2 separate regions of the Homo sapiens genome follow, and region 1 is linked to region 2. The links come from fine-mapping of genetic effects on gene expression. A gene starts in region 2. The other region holds a variant in brackets. All regions are shown on one strand. Distances are from middle to middle. Region 1 overlaps RASGRF1 (Ras protein specific guanine nucleotide releasing factor 1). Region 2 holds the start of RASGRF1 (Ras protein specific guanine nucleotide releasing factor 1).

Evidence for each region.
Region 1: its variant is fine-mapped to the expression of RASGRF1 in monocytes after Pam3CSK4 (Quach 2016, PIP 0.95).

Annotation. Positions count from the first base shown.
Region 1 is chr15:79,000,879-79,009,209 of GRCh38, reverse strand. RASGRF1 (Ras protein specific guanine nucleotide releasing factor 1) reads left to right here. Exons shown (of 27, transcript NM_001145648.3): 14 at 2,776-3,024; 15 at 5,035-5,408; 16 at 7,423-7,548. LOC105370917 (a long non-coding RNA gene) reads right to left here. Exons shown (of 3, transcript XR_932519.4): 2 at 3,229-3,321. Among named protein-coding and RNA genes, the nearest start is that of CTSH, 60 kb to the right of the region's middle. RefSeq lists a silencer at 1,789-2,083 and enhancers at 2,520-3,355, 4,284-5,483. The variant A/T (reference allele first, on the strand shown) is at 4,904.
Region 2 is chr15:79,087,503-79,095,833 of GRCh38, reverse strand. RASGRF1 (Ras protein specific guanine nucleotide releasing factor 1) reads left to right here and starts at 5,054. Exons shown (of 27, transcript NM_001145648.3): 1 at 5,054-5,611. The coding sequence starts at 5,336.

The DNA.
Region 1 (8,331 bases), 87 kb after region 2:
TAGACGGAGGCCAGCAGCCCGGGAGCCACCCTTCTGTGAGGTCCTATCAGATATCAGCACAGTGTTTCAGCCCACTGCTTAAATGCAGGTGGGGGGCTCAGCACCTGCAGAATCACATCAGACTTGCTGAGAAGTGACACTGAAGCAGAATCACATCAAGGTTTGGGCCTGAGAGTGCGTCTGGTTAGAGATGACAGAGGTGTCATCACTAACCTTATCAGACGTCATATTATGTTTGGGAAAGGCAAAGACGAGGGTCATTTATCTTGTAGGGAGAATAGAGACTCAGGCAAGAGACCTGGGAGGCCATGTGCTCTGGCCTGCTTTGTCCTCAAAGCATCTTTCCGGAGCGCTGCACATCGTCACGGAGTCAGGGGCCTTGTGGAGTCATGCCAGCAAGCAGAAATGAGCAGGCGTGGCTTCTCTCGTTTGCTACTTTGTCTCACGGTAGTGAGAGGTCCCCTCTCTGTCCACTCTGTGTTGCTTCCATTTTCTGTCATTTCAACCTCTTTGTCCTTCTCTGAGTTCTAGGGGACTTTCTCAAATGTGTTTAATAGACCACTCAGATTTTCTGAGTGTCCGATCTGCCATTTGCTGCATCCGTCCCAGCCTTCAATTTAGCACTCTTGTTTTTCATGTCCAGGAAATCCTTCTGACCTTGGATTACTCCCTCTTCATGGTTGCTTCTCAAGGTCCCATAGATGCAGTGTATACTTTCCTGAATCTTGGTGGAAACCAAATCAGGAGTTTTCTAAAATGTTTTGTGTCTTGCAGCAAAGCTAACTTAGAAGGCAGCATTTCCTCGGTTTCTTTGGAATGCTCTCTTTTTGAACTGCAGTATCTTTACGGGCCCTGTGCTTTTCCCATATTGTTCTCATCCTAAAAAGAAATCCCACTGCCCTGCTCATTGAAGGCACTCGATAAAGTTTATTTATTTCAAATCCCAAGAATGCTTCCAAAGAAAAGTATTTAAGAAAGACAGTGTGAAAGGGATGCTATGTCCATTTGCTCACTTCCTCTGAGCACTATCTGCACTCCTAGGTAGAAGATACCCTCGAAAGAACAGGTGAGCCAGGTGCGGTGGCTCACGCCTGTAATCCCAGCACTCTGGGAGGCCAAGGCAGGTGGATCAAGAGGTCAAGAGTTTGAGACCAGCCTGGCCAACATGGTGAAACCCCATCTCTACTAAGAATACAAAAATTAGCTGGGCGTGGTGGCGCATGCCTGTAATCCCAGCTACTCGGGAGGCTGAGGCAGGAGAATCACTTGAATCGTGGAGGCAGAGGCACTCCAGCTTGGGTGACAGAGCAAGACTCCATCTCAAAAAACAGAAAAAAAAAAAAAGAAAAACTAGATAGTCTGGGCACAGTGGCTCACACCTGTCATCCCAGCACTTTGGGAGGCCAAGGCAGGAGGATTGCTTGAGCCCTGGAATTCGAGACCAGCCTGGGCAACATGGTGAAACCGTGTCTCTACCAAAAAATACAAAAATTAGCGAGGCATAGTGGCATGTACCTGTAATCCCAGCTACTGGGGAGGGTAAGGCAGGAGGATCACTTGAGCCCAGGAGAGCAAGGCTGCAGTGAGCCATGATCACACCACCGCACTGTACTCCAGCCTGAGCAAATGAGACCTTATCTCATTAAAAAAAAAAAAAAAAAAAACTAGATACGGCCATCAGCATGTAAGTAATAAGGACAAACAAAAAATAAAGAAGTAAATAAAAAGAAATGAGCACTATATTTGATTCTAAGATTCTTGGTAGTCAAAACAAAAAGTAAAACATGATTACAAAGACTCACAACATCCAAAAAATGAAAACCCAGAGTTGCCCAAGAGTCCTAATAGCTCCCATTGGATGACCAATAAAAGACGATTCCAGTGGCGTAAGCACCAGAGGGCGCTGTGTGGTACAGCAGCCTTCAGGGCCACTGGTTCCCACTATGCCCTGTAGAGGCTGCTGACCTCAAGTTCACAAGCAGCTGAAACAAGACCCCTGCAAGTTCACCCCATCTTAGCCCCTTTGTTCTGGCTAACTGCACTGGACACCTGTCCTTACATCTTGACAGCTGCTAGCAGATCAAATAGACCACATTTTGTTTTTCCATGTATCAGCTGATGGACACCTGGGTAGTTTCCACTTTGGGGCTATTACAAATAATGCTGCTAAGAACATTCATGTACACATATTTTTTTTTGAGGCAGAGTCTCGCTGTGTCACCCAGGCTGGAGGGCAGTGTCACAGTCTCGGCTCACTGCAACCTCCATCTCCAGGGTTCAAGCGATTCTTGTGCCTCAGCCTCCCTAGTAACTGGTATTACAGGTATGGGCCACCACACCTAGCTAACTTTTGTATTTTTAAGAGAGACAGGGTTTCGCCATGTTGCCCAGGCTGGTCTTGAGCTCCTGACCTCAAGTGATCCTCCCACCTCAGCCTCCCAAAGTGCTGGGATTACAGGCGTGAGCCACTGCACCCCATCCACATACACATTTGTGTAAACAGAGTTCCTTACGTCTTGTGAACTCAACAACAAATGTTTTTAAATTTGTAATACTTCTCCAGTATTTCTAGGGGTTTTATAATGGAGAGTTTTTAGGATATTGGGAAAAAGAAGTTGTAGCCCTCCTTCAGTGTCATCCTTCCCAAGCTTGTTCTCTTAATAAGACCATCCTGTGTTGTCAGTGTGTGGGGGAAGCAGTGATGAGCAGGCCTGGTGGGTGCCATTCAGATGCCTTTAGACCCACATCACCTCTGCATCCTTCCTCCCCTCTCAGGTCCGACGCCTCCTTATATTGTGATGATGTTGACATTCGCTTCAGCAAAACCATGAACTCCTGCAAAGTGCTGCAGATCCGCTACGCCAGTGTGGAGCGGCTGCTGGAGAGGCTGACGGACCTGCGCTTCCTGAGCATCGACTTCCTCAACACCTTCCTGCACTCCTACCGCGTCTTCACCACCGCCATCGTGGTCCTGGACAAGCTCATTACCATCTACAAGAAGCCTATCAGTGCCATTCCTGCCAGGTGGCTGAGGTGCCCTCCTCCTCCCATGCCCGGAGAGCTTCCAAGCCTTGGAGGAAAACTGAGCTTGCACGGGGCCGGGGGGTGACCTGGAAGGTCCCTGGAGGAGCAGCAGTAACGTGTTGGGGTGCTGCGGGACACACACCGCCACTGCCCCCTCTCCCCAGGAACCAAGCCTCCCTCTGCAGAGAGGCAGGGACAGCTCACCTGCCTGGTGCTACTGCTCAGTCTCAGCTGCTTCCATCTCCACCTGCCAGGATCCTGGGGTGTGGAGGGTGCTCTCACCTCTTAGCCCCGCTCCTGGAAGCACAGGGTCCCACCGTCACCAAAGGACAGTGCTTCCTTTGGTGAAAAAAGAGAAAGGAAATGAGGAGGGGAAGGAGGACAGAAGGAGAGAGGGAGAGGGAGAAAGAAAAATAAAGGGAGAGAGGAAGGAAGGAAGGGAGGGAGGGAGGGAGGGAGGGAGGGAGAAAGGACTCTTACCCCTGCTTTGCTTAGACCACCTCCTACTCTAAGAAATGATGGAGCCCTTTTTGGCCTACTTGGGGTGAGTCAACATAAGGAGTGCAGGCCACCTTAGCCTTTGCTTCTCAAAAGTCATGGGGCAATGAAGGACTTGGCCAAGGCTGTCCAGCAGTAGGCCAAGTTCAGGGATTGGCTCAGGCCCCTAATGGACTTCACTGCATCCAGGAATGGTAGGTGATTATCTTTTCCGAGAGGCCACCTACCCAGATCCCAGTTGTGGACAGCCCATCCCAGCCCTCAGAGGCTCAGAGGCTCTCTGAGTGCCCTGCCCCAAAACACCCTAGGCAAGACATTATGCCAGAGCCTCAGCTCTAGGGCTGCCTGGAGCAGAGCTCCTGAATCACACTGGCTCCCCAGGGCTCCCCAGGAACCTCACCATTCCTCCCCCAATCCACACCTCTGCTGCCAGAGCAACGCAACGACCCAGAATACACCCGTTCCCTCTTCTGTTCCCTCCTCCTGCCCCCACCTCAGGCCTCACTGGGGCAGGGTACATCTTGCCTCTCTGCCCTGAACTTCTGAAACCTCAATGATCAGATTCCCAGGGCTCTGAGAAAACAGAAGCAAACATCCCATCCAGGATGGATTTACCCCCTAAAAGTCACTGAGATCATTCCCAGGGGCCCAGCAGACAGTGTCCTTCCTTTCCCAGCAGCAGTGCCCTGCAGAACAAAGAGGCTGGTTCAGAGCCAGCTCTCAGCCCTATGGCCTTGGCTGAGTCCCTTAACCTTTCTGAGACTCAGTTTCCTACCTGTGACATTCCTGCAGTTATCCTGTAGGAATAAGAGTGCCTACGTCCTGGGGCAACAGTGAGGGTTAAAAGATCAATCCTATCCTGTGTGCAACGTGGAGCAGACAGCCTCGATGAGACAAGCTATGGTTTGCAATGTTCTGGATGTATAACCTGTTTCCAGCCTGGCCTGAGGTGGAACCCTGTCATGAGGATGGTAGGGGCCACTTTCAGCTTCCCATCCCCCTAAGTTTGCATATAGGGCCGCTCAAGCCCCAAAGCAGGTGGAAAGGACCCTGCGTTTAGAGTAGGAGGCATCAGATGAGTCATTTCCTGTCTCTGAGCCTCAGCTTCCTCATTCCACAAAACATGCCTGAGGACCTCTCTAAGGATGAGGCCAGAGAGTGTAGGCGGGAGCAGGCCCTGTGTGGGATGGAGGGGGGTTTTGCACAGTCCGCAGCTCAGGGGACCCTTAGCACTTCAGGTCAGATGCTGCAGCTGCTGCCCTGAGGGGGTGGGGGGGCGGAGCATAGAAGCCCCAGATCCTCTGCCCAAACCATCCAGAGCAGGACCCTTGGCCCCAGGCCATTTAATCGCATTGTCCCTGCTCAGAGGATCAGCTCAAGT[A/T]TGGGTTTCAGGGATCCTAAGAATGATGGAGCCGTTGCTGCCACTCCGAGCCCCACCGGAGACGGCCCCCAGGCCTAGGCGGGCAGGCAGGCCTACGCTAACTGTCATTTTCACCCCCGCCCTCCCCACAGGTCGCTGGAGCTCCTGTTTGCCAGTGGCCAGAACAATAAGCTCCTGTACGGTGAACCCCCCAAGTCCCCGCGCGCCACCCGCAAGTTCTCCTCGCCGCCACCTCTGTCCATCACCAAGACATCGTCACCGAGCCGCCGGCGGAAGCTCTCCCTGAACATCCCCATCATCACTGGCGGCAAGGCCCTGGACCTGGCCGCCCTCAGCTGCAACTCCAATGGCTACACCAGCATGTACTCGGCCATGTCACCCTTCAGCAAGGCCACGCTGGACACCAGCAAGCTCTATGTGTCCAGCAGCTTCACCAACAAGATTCCAGATGAGGGCGATACGACCCCTGAGAAGCCCGAAGACCCTTCAGCGCTCAGCAAGCAGAGTGAGTGGCCATGCCGTCGGAGCTGCCCCCCAGCCTCCCAGCCCCACTGAGGCTCAGCCTGGCCCAGCAAGGCCTCAGGGCTGCTCTTCCTGCTCCCATGGGGAAGGAAGGGAGAGGCTTGGGGGTCCCACCAGGCAGATAGTGGAGGCAGCACAGAGTCTGGGCGGTGCAGAGAGGTAGCCGTATGTGGGAGCCCAGGCTGCGGGGGGAGGCAGGCAGAAATTCCCAGGGCATCGCCACACTTTAGATGAGTCAGTTCCCATCACGAGCAATTTAGGCATCCCTCTGCCCTGACCACAGCATCCTACGGCATCCCTGTGTTTGTCCATGTCTGCAGAGGACAGGGCCTGGGCCAGGCCCATTCAGGGCCCGGGAGAGAAGAGGTCGTCAGCAGCTCCTGCCCCCTGGGATTCAGTCTGGCTGAGGACCCAGACCAGACACTGAAATGTGGACACCTGATACGAATGGCTTGTGTCAGGAGGATGCTCCAGGGGCACAGAGGTTGGGGTGGGAACACCATTAGGAGCGTCATAGAAGGCTTCCCGGAAGAACTGTTCGATCTCAATTTTTACCAAGAGGAAAGGAGAACATTCTAGACCATGGGAACAGGATGGGAATGACTGAGGAGCAAGAAAAGGCCTTGTGTGTTTCGGGGACAGCTGGACGCCAGGCAGACCTGGAATGCTGAGTGTGAGACAGGCTGGAGATGATTCCAGGACAGGCTGGAGCCTCCCTACTCTCAGGGTTTCTCCTGACTGTTCTAAAAGTGTCAGGTCTGGTTCTGATTTAGATCCGAACAGGCCACATCTTGGGTGCCACAAGCATTGTCTCGGTTAGCACATGAGAGCACGTGCACACACGCACGCACCCACGTGCAACCAGGGGCTGGTCAGACGCCCCAGGCTTTGAGGAGGAGGCCTTTGAAGAGGGAAGGATTTCTCTCCTCTGAGCTGGCAAGAGGGAAGGCAGAGGGCACCCCCAGCAGAGGGCACAGCTGGGGCAAGATAAATCCTCCGCCAGGCTCCATACCAAGTAACACTCACCGTGGCACATGCAGTTAATGGGTGATGCATGCAGCTGAAAGTCAGTCACCAAGGAAATGGCCTGCCAGAAATTTCATAATTTCACATTCTGAAATGTAACGCAAGGCAGTCCTGAGAAGTCATCTGGTACCAGGCTTCTTGACTGGTGATCCAGGAGCCCATGAATCTAATTATGTGCCAAACTGTGTGTGTGTGTATATGTGTGTGTATGTGTATTTGTTATGTATAAATGTGTGTGCGTGTGCATGTGCCTGTGGACATTCTTGTCTAAAGAGAAGACCTGTGGCTTTGTGTTCTCAAGGTCAGATGCAACTACATCCACTTTCTACGTGGGTAAACTGAGGCCCAGAGCAGTTAAGAGTTTCTGACCAAGACCTCACTGTGCCAGACCTAGGCTTTTAATATAATTCATCAGCCTCCCCAGGGTGTGTGGACCAGGAGTCTCCCAAGATTAGGAAGCCTCTATAATTAATTATCCAAGACAGGACATTTTAAGAGTGACCAGGGGCACGCGGCAATAGGTTAAAAGCAGAGGAAAACTGGAGCAGATGGTCACCTTAACTAATAAGCTTCACCAAAAAAAAAAAGAGAGATCGTGTAACTCAAAGTGTGGTCCGTGGACCAACCACATGGCCATCACCTGGAACCTGTTAGAAATGCAGACTCTCAGGCCCTGCCTGAGACCCCTGAATCAGAATTTGCATTCTGACAAGATCCCCAGGTGTGTCTGGTAAGGTTTGAGAAGCCCTGGTGGAGCAAAAGCCACCTTGGAGATCGACAGTGCTCATTAGCAAGAGAAAGGTTCTGATGAGTCCTGCGGGAAACAAAGCTGTTAAACTTTCTTCAGTGGCTGTATCCCAAGTTTACTCTGTTTTGCCTCAGTAAATTATAGACATAAATTTTAAAATCAAATATTTAAATTTTAAAATTAAAATTAAGAAAAGTAAAATTATTTATTTCTTTTCTCCCAGGCTCAGAAGTCTCCATGAGAGAGGAGTCAGATATTGATCAAAACCAGAGTGATGATGGTGATACTGAAACATCACCAACTAAATCTCCAACAACACCCAAATCAGTCAAAAACAAAAATTCTTCAGGTACAATGCACCAATTCAAAACCACAAATAGATTTCCAGTTTGGGAGAGGGCAGTAGGTCAAGTCGAGTCAAGGCAAGTGGGTGTCATCCCTTATGCTTTATGAGTGACTCCTAAGAGCAGTAACTTTTCTGATATTTCATAACCCACCCACCACCACCCGCCCCCCGCCACCCCAAGGGAAGGGGCTGTGGGCACTGGAACATTGGCTGGGTAGATCCTGCTCTTCAACTCAACCAAGTCACTCTCCCAACTTCAGACAAGACTGCCTTGAGCCCACCCAGCACAGGTGGGCAGGGAGGCTCAGCATCTAGGGCTCATTCGTGGAAGATCCTGATTCAGAAGGTGCTTCCTGAACCCCAGCACAGGTGGGCAGGGAGGCTCAGCATCTAGGGCTCATTCATGGAAGATCCTGGTTCAGAAGGTGCTTCCTGAACTGAGTGCCAGGCTCTGCACAGACCCCTTTCATCATCTTGACAGCTTTGCAAAAAGGCTAGGTGTTTCAAATAAGGGGAAAGACTCCAAGAGGCGGTGACATTGCTCACCCGCAGTCCCAGACTCCTGATCCTGAAGGATCCTTGAGAAGCAGTCTTGGTCTCCGGTTTTCATAAAGCCCTTTCCCCTATACAAGGGGGCTGTGAGATACCCAATGGTGAGAGAGAGCTCCCAGGGGACCCACCTCCCAGGCAGCCCCTCCCCACACAGCTTTCTCCAATGTCCCTGCTCTCACATGCAAAGGGCCGCCTGCAGCCTGAACTCCCCACTATCCAGGCTTTCAAAAGGAA
Region 2 (8,331 bases):
TAGTAAATCCCCAAGGGCAAAGCCTCCATTTCCAAGTCTGCTTCTGACCCCTTGTGCTTAAGTCTTCATTTCTTTAAATGACATGGAAACTACATTTTTCTTATGGAATATGTTGCCAAGGAAGCAGAGGTTCTCTAGATATTCCATCCACACACACGCTGCATGCCCCACACACATACACACCATACCACTCAGAAACTTCCACACATGCAATAGACAACACACATCACACACACACATACACACACACACACACACACACACACACACACACTAGAAATCCTCACTAGCGGGCACCTCCCATCCAGTCAGACCCACAGGACACCCATCTCAACAAATGCTTAAGTTGAGCTCCAGTCCAAAGTCTAATCAAAATCCCACATGAAGACTTAGCAGGATTTTGAACTGGGCAATGTCCCTGTCATTAGCTAGCCATTTCTAAATGCAGAGACCAAACCCACCAAAATATTCCTTAATTCTCCTTCTTGATTCTTTATCTACAGAGACCTCAGCCCACAGGGCTGGGAGGTGGGAAATCCAGGAAGCCAGTTCTTCTGGGATGAGGCCTGGACGAGCAGTCAGAGTACCTCATCCCAGCTCCTCCCTGTAAGACTCTGTGCATGTTGTTTCCACTGTCTGGGCCTCAGTTTTCCCATCTGTGAATGGGATTATTAACCCTTATGCAAATCCTTCTTGGGAGAATGGAATGAAGCATGGCAAAGCCCAGATGCACCTACGGTGCTCCTGTAGACATCCTCTCCACCTTTGAGGGAGGGTTGACCTCAGGACTAGTGGACAGCACACATGAGAGCTAGGTGTGCCCACTTCCACCAGCTATGGCAGGGAATGCCTACCCCCTTCTTGGCATTCCCCACCCCAGCCCAAGCTAGGGCCGGCCTGGTAAACGTTGTCTTCTTAGCCAGCTAACTTAAGCACCTTCCAGGGGCTCTGAGCTCTGACTAGTATTGAGGCAAACGACCACAGAGGGGCCAATCAGCTCTTCTCCGGTTTCCAGCTGTGGGGACTGGAGAGAAATCAATATGCACACAGCTCAGATGGGAGTAATCAAAGCGCCAGGGCTGATGCCACCCCCCTCTTTCTCACAGAGAGGTTTTAAGCCAAGCCCAGCCCTCCTGCATGGACTGGCCCACGAGGAATTCCTGTAACTCCAAGACCAGCAAAAGGAGGTGGCTCAGACTCCCCAATGCCAGCAAGGGGAAGGAGGGAGTGGAGAGCAGATGTTCTTGGCCCAGGCTTTAGACCAGTGGTTCTCAACCCCAGCTGTGCATTGGAATCATCTGGGGAGCTTTTAAAAGCACAGATGCCCAGGGCCCACCCTCAAAGTTTCTGACTTAATTGGCCTGGGGTTCAGCCTGAGCACAGAGATTTTTAAAACATCTCCAGGTGGTTCCAAAGTGCACCAGGGCTGAGACTCACTGAAGTGGGTTCATTTTTTTTTTTTTTTTTTTTTTTTTTTGGAGACAGAGTCTCGCTCTGTCACCCAGGCTGGACTGCAGTGGTGCGATCTCAGCTCACTGCAACCCCCGCCTTCCGGGTTCAAGCAACTCTCCTGCCTCAGCCTCCTGAGTAGCTGGGACTACAGGTGTGTGCCACCACACCTGGCTAATTTTTTTGTATTTTAGTAGAGACAGGGTTTTACCGTGTTGCCCAGGCTCATCTCGAACTCCTGAGCTCAGGCAATCCGCCTGCCACCTCTCATCGGAATCTTTCCCCCAGATCCAAGGGAAGATGGTTTTCTTCCTGCTACACTAAGGGTCAGACAGAGAAGGCATGCTTGGGCATCCCTTGTAAGACAGGGACTGTATTTTGTTTATCACTGTATCCCCAGTGGCCCACCCATGCCTGGCACAGATGAAGGGCTAAATGAACACTAGTGGAATGAAATGTGTGTGAATGAGTGAATGAATGAATGAATCCCATTGCCTCCCACCTCTCGAGTGCCCTAGAACTTTCAAAGTGTGGTCTGCAAACCAGCAGCTTTTCATGACCAGGGAACTTGTTAGAAATGCAGATTATCAGGTCCTGTCCCAGATCCACTGAAAGAGAATCTGCATTTTCACAAGATCCCCAGGTGATTCATGTGCACGTGACCATATCATGAGTTCTCCCGTATATGAGCGGTTCTCCACCTTCACTGCACATTACAACTACCCATGAAAGTGTAGCTAGCCCACCCATGATCTCTGGGAAGTGCTTGTTAAGTGCTCCCAGGTGATTCTGATGTGCAGCCCAGGTTCAGAACCTATGTACCATAAGTCCCTCTGCCACAGCAGCCTCTGTGCAGGCTCAGCCTTGACTCCAGCCTACCTGGGAGACCCTCTCTTGACCATCGTACCCCCTCTTGGGATAAAAGCCAACCTCCCTGCAACCCAGGGACCACCCACTTAGCTCTACAAAGACCTCTGGGACAGACTGCCCCGTTCAAATCCAACCTCCGCTGCTTCCTAGCTGAGCGGCCCTGAGCAAGTCATTCAACTCTCCCATGCATCAGTTTCCCCGTCTGTACAATGGAGCTCATTGGGGAAAAAAATAAACTTACTACATTGGGTTGCATGACGATTCAATGGCTTAATTGATCTAAAGCACTTAGAACAGTGCCCCTTCCCTGAAGTTTTCTTGGCTTCTGTAACAGACTTCCGAATAAAAGAGTTTAGATAAAGAAAGGCCAGATTAAGAACCTCAATCCTGCAAACTCTGCTTCCATGAAGAGAGCAAATGAGAAGAAAAGATGGTGATAGTGTAGGGAAAATTAAGACTGAATGAAAAGGCTTAGCCATCTAGCCTATTTTCATTATTTGTGAAGAAAAATCAGCACCACTGAGTCCTTGGGGTCCCTAGGACTGGAACGATGGCACTAGAGGGAGGACTAAGGTTAACAAGGCCAGTTCCTCCCCCAAAATGCTCCCACTCCAGGAACACAGGCCTGCCTCACTGTGCTCAGGACAGGGGCAGCTCCATTCCTCCACAGCAGAGCTTCTCTGTGGATTCTTCCGTGACCTACACAGGGCTGCCTGGTTTCCAAGCCCTTCCCTAGGGCTCCAAACTAGGGTGTGTGTGTGTATGTGTGTGTGTATGTGTGTGTGGTGTGCTGCATGTGTTGTGTGAGGTGTGATGCGTGTGTGTGTGCAGCCCAGGTTTGGTCTGTGGGAGGGGTGTGTTATGTGGTGTGTGTGTGGTGTGGTGTGTGTGGTGTGGTGTGCATGGTGTGTGTGGTATGTGTGGTGTGTGGTCTGGTGTGTGGTGTATGTGTGGGTGTGGGTGTGTGTGGTGTGTAGGGGTGTGTAGGGGTGTGTGTGGTATGTGGGTGTGGTGTGTGTAGTGTGTGTGGTGTGTGGTGTGTGGTGTGGGGAGTGTGGGGGTGTTGTGTGTAGTGTGTGGTGTTTGTATGGTGTGGGTTGTGTGTGTGTGTGGCGGGGGGTGTGGGGGAGTGTGGGGGGTGTGTATGTGGCATGTGGTATGTGTGTGGTGTGTGGCATGTGTGTGGTGTGTGTGTGGTGTGTGGTGTGTGTGTGGTGTGTGTGTGGTGTGTGGCATGTGTGTGGTGTCTGTGTGTGGTGTGTGTGGCGTGTGTGTGGTGGGGTGTGGGGGGGTGTGGGGAGTGGTGTGTGTGTAGGGTGTGTGGTGTGTGTTTGGTGTGTGTGGTGTTTGGGTGTGTGGTGTGTGTGTGGTGTGTTGGTGTGTGGTGTATGGTGTGTGTGTGTGGTGTGTGGTGTTTGTGTATGCGGTGTGTGTGGCGTGTGTGTGTGCGTGTGTGGTGTGTGTGGTGTATGGTTTGTGTGTGGTGTGTGCGGTGTGTGTGTGTGGTGTGTGTGGTGTGTGTGTGTGGTGTGTGTGGTGTGTGGGTGTGTGGTGTGTGGTGTGTATCTGTGCGTGTGTGGTGTGTGCTGTGTGTGAGTGTGGGGTGTGTGTGTGTGTGTGTGTGTGTGTGTGTGTGTGTGTGTGTGTCGGGGGAGGGGTATACGCAGTTTCCGTGCGGAAAGATGGTGTCTTTCCTTCACAGGGCTGCGCGGGCACCCATCCCCGCTGCAAAGCGCCCGGGCCAGGCGCGGCTTGCTCCGGGTCGGGGCGAGCTCGCTGCCCTCTGCGGCAGACAGCGATGCGCGCTCCCCGCCCCAGCTCCCGGCTCGCCCGGCGGCCCGCGCGCCCTCCCGGTGCAGCATGCGGGCGCTGTGACGTTCTCGGATAAATGCCGTGTAACTGTGTAGGCGAATGAGAGCTAAAAATAAGAACGGAAAATCTATCATTAAGGTATCATTGCGCCAGCGCAGCTATTTGAAGGCTCCCATGGTCCCCGGCGCCTGCGTTTGAAGCCCGCCTTCAGGCTTTGGGGGGTATTTGCAGAAAACTCCCAGCAGCGGCTCGCCAACCAGACCTCAGGGTGCACGGGGGGTGGCGCCGGTAATTATGGCAACTCTCAAAATAAAATAATATAAAATAAAGTAACCAACGTTCACCAACCACCACCCCATCTCACCCCCTGTACTGTCCTCAGGTAGCTGGGGAAGCCGCCGGGAGTGCAGCCGGATGCTGGAATTCAATGTGACCCGGCTGACTATGCAAAGACTAGGACTGGACGCTTTTGCAGCTCTATTTCGCCACCCACCTTCCTCCTTCCACCTCGTATTAGAAATAAAGTGGGGGGGGGGGGCGAGCCTTTGGAGGAGAAAATGACAACTGGCACTTAACCCCAGGTCTACAGTGCGCCGCGGTGGGGCGCAAAGACGCAAACTCCCGGGATGGCGAGCCTTCGGGGTTTCATTGGGTTAAACGAAAATTGATCTGATTTGCTTTTTAACATCCGAGGGAGAGAAGGGGAGATGAGGGGAGGGAGGGCAGGGTTTGAGTGTGTGCGTGTGCGTGTGCGTGTGTGTGTGTCTGGGGAGGGGGAGGAGGCACCAAGTTGCAGCCTGCGCGCGGCTCTGCGCCTCGGCGGGGCTGCGTGCGTGTGTCCCTGTCCGCGCTGCTGAAACGGGCTCTTCGAGGGATCGGCGTCACATGACTCCGCCTGCCCCTCGCCAGCGCGCAGATCGCCAGTCCCTCAGTTTGCCCGGCACCGGAGGAGGGTCGGGCGGCATCTTCCGGGTACTGGGGCTCTGCGGAGCGGAGAAGAGGTTCCAGCGGGGAATGGTATATCTGGATTCAAGAAGCCGCGGCTCGGCGCCAGATCCTGGAGTGTAGATATTTGGGGGGAGGGGAGAGCTAGAGGGAGCGAGCGAGCGAGCGCCAGAGAGAGGCAGCGCGCAGCGCGCACGGACGGGGGGCTGCTGCGCGGAGAAGATGTAAGCGCGTGGGGTCTCGCTGGCCTCTGAGCACCATGCAGAAGGGGATCCGGCTGAATGATGGCCACGTCGCGTCCCTGGGACTGCTGGCGCGCAAGGACGGCACGCGCAAAGGCTACCTGAGCAAGCGGAGTTCGGACAACACAAAATGGCAAACCAAGTGGTTCGCGCTGCTGCAGAACCTGCTCTTCTACTTCGAGAGCGACTCGAGCTCGCGGCCCTCGGGGCTTTACCTGCTGGAGGGCTGCGTCTGCGACCGCGCGCCCTCCCCCAAGCCGGCGCTGTCGGCCAAGGAGCCGCTGGAGAAACAGGTGAGGCGAGCGTCGCGTCCTGACCTCCCTGCGTCCCGGCCGCGGCCCTGGGGGCTCAGGGCCTTCGGCTGGCTGATGGCGCTTGAACTTTGGCCCCTCTACTCTTGGCGCCCTAGGCGCTCTCTGCACCCTCAGCGAGAGGGGAGGCTTGCTCCCAGCCAGGCGAGTGACTGCGGCGGGCAGAGGGGGCAGGGATTGAGGGCGGGGAGTAGATGTGGGCTGCGGCTGCCCTTCGCCGGACGAGCCCCGTGGGAGGCGGGTACAGAGGGGCCGACACCTGGAGATGCAGAGGAAGATGGGGTCCTAAGGACCAGAGACGATGAGTCTGGACACACGTCCAGCCAAAAATGGTGCTCCCAACCCCCACTCCCACCGCCCAGCCCTAATAGCCCCGATCGTCTGTTCTACACCGGGAACGTGTAATTCCCCGCGCTTAGGCATGGGAAGGGCAAGACGGAGGCGTCCGAGCGCTGCCAGCCCTTGCCTCGCCGCAGCTGAGGGCGGAGAGCGGTCTGCGCTAGCTCCTCGGAGTTGGGCTGGGGTTATGGGGCTACACGGGTCGGTTCGGTACCATCGAGCGGTGGTGGGCTCCCAGCTGGCGGCCGCCGGAGCAACAAGCCCAAAGATTCCCAAGGACCGCTCTGATGCGCCGGGGCTAGGGCCAGGGCTGCTGCGGAGGCAGCGGGACGAAGTGGGCGCTTCTCTCCTCCCCCGCCCCCTGCGCCGCCGCCGCCGCCGCAGTCGCGGCTATAGCGCTGCGCTCTGGTTTCCTGAGCTGCAAGGCTGAAGAGCCAGGCCTGGCTCTAACAGGGAGCCCGGGCGGGGTGGGGGTGAGCCTCTGGCGTGAAGGGAGGAGGGGCACCTGCAGAGAGAGCCACCTTTAAGCTTGGTGCGCTTTCCAAAAGCATCTGGTCCAGTCCCTTGCCACTAGGAAGATAAAGCAGATGATAGTGGATCCTAAAATGCCACTGCAGGCAGGAACCTTCCATCCATAGGGCCTAACGGCTGGTGATTGCCTAGATGGGGACACTGAGGCCCAGAGAGAGAAATTCACTTGCCCAGCGTCATGCAAGTTGTTGAGGCCGTCCCAATGTTCTGAAAAGACAACCGAGATCTCAAAAGCCACTGCTGCATGAAGACACAGACTGGTGGTGATTGAATTGGTTGAAATAAAAGCATCGCTTGAAGTCTTCCTCCCAATTGTCAGGACAGAGATCCGAGCTCAGTCTCTCTAGCACATCTCTTCCTTCCCTACCTTCAGCCAATGGGTGTTAGGAGATAGTTTCTGAGGACTGGGAAGTGTGGACAGGAATTTTTGAGGGTGGGTCCCTGGGGATGACAAGCCATGTGGTGAGCAGGGGCTCCCAGATGGAAAGAAGAGCAAAGAGCAGGCAGCTCCTTAAGCTTCAGCTCAAATGGAGCCTGGGGAACTCATGTGGAAGAGCCAGTCCCAGGCCAGACTAGAGAATTTGCTCTCAGCCCTTCAGAACTTGCCCCTCTCCAGCCAGTGTCTACCCATATACCCATACCTACCCGGGGCCTGCAGCCCAAGCCCCAGCCCCAGCCAGATCCCCCCTCCATCCCTCAACCCACTACACTAGATCACAGAGCTGAGCTCCTGGGTAGGCAGGAAGTGAGGGGTGGGGGAAGCCAAGTTGGCATGGGCTCATATTATCTGTTCTCAGCCCCCTGGACGTGAAGGCAGACAGGCCTGAGACTGAATCTCAGCTGTATGACTTCCTGGCTGTGTGACTTCAGTTAACTTGCTGAACTTCTCTGAGTTTCCATTTTGTAATCTACAAAATGAAGATAATAACACCTACCTTTCTGGGGTTTTGAGAGCCCTACATTAAATAATGTATATGAAAGTAAGCGCCCAATACATTTTAGTTAGATCTAGACGAATCACAGTTGAATCTGAATTATACCCACCTGGACAGAGCTATTTAGGTCACCAGATGTTAAAGTCGAACAGAACCTCAGAGATACAGCCTTCCCATTTTACAGACCAAGAAACTGAGAGGCAAAGAAAGGGAGTTACCCAACAACGGGGTAAATCAGTGGCAGAATCAGACCTAGAATTCATCCAATGCCTAAGAATTCCTGAAAATGAGACCCTACATTGATTTCAAATCATCCAACTCTTGGCCCAGGTATTGAATCATCCTAGCAGTAGATCATGGGAGGAACATCAGTGCAAAACTAATTGATGAGATGCACTCATGTTCAGAGCTGTTTCCCCAGAACACTACTAGTCAGAGATCCTCAGGTTTGTTCACGAGAGCAGCCCTCCTGGCACAAGAGAACAGAACCGGGTTAAAAGTAGCAGATGATGGTCTGGCGCAAATTTCTGTTAAAGACTCATACTTAAATCACATATGTTTATATAGGTTCCATTTGCCTCTAGACCAACTTTGACTCCTGTGGAAAACTAGATCCTGCTCCTTCCGGCTACACATGTGTACAAAAATTCATCGCTGTTTCTTTTCTCAATCTTTGAGTAAAATCGATGGTGCCAGCAGCTGCTCCATGTTTCTCTTTGACTTGGGTGCCCCATGGCATAAGCCACAGAGCCTAGCATGATAGGTCTAACTCCAGGCCATTCTGTGACCAGGCTTGAGCCTACGAGAAGCTTTGGCTCAATCTGCTGGGCATGTACAGAGTGCCTGAGTTGAGAGGCGTCTACGAAGCCATCTGTTTAACTAGACTAGCTGGTGTCT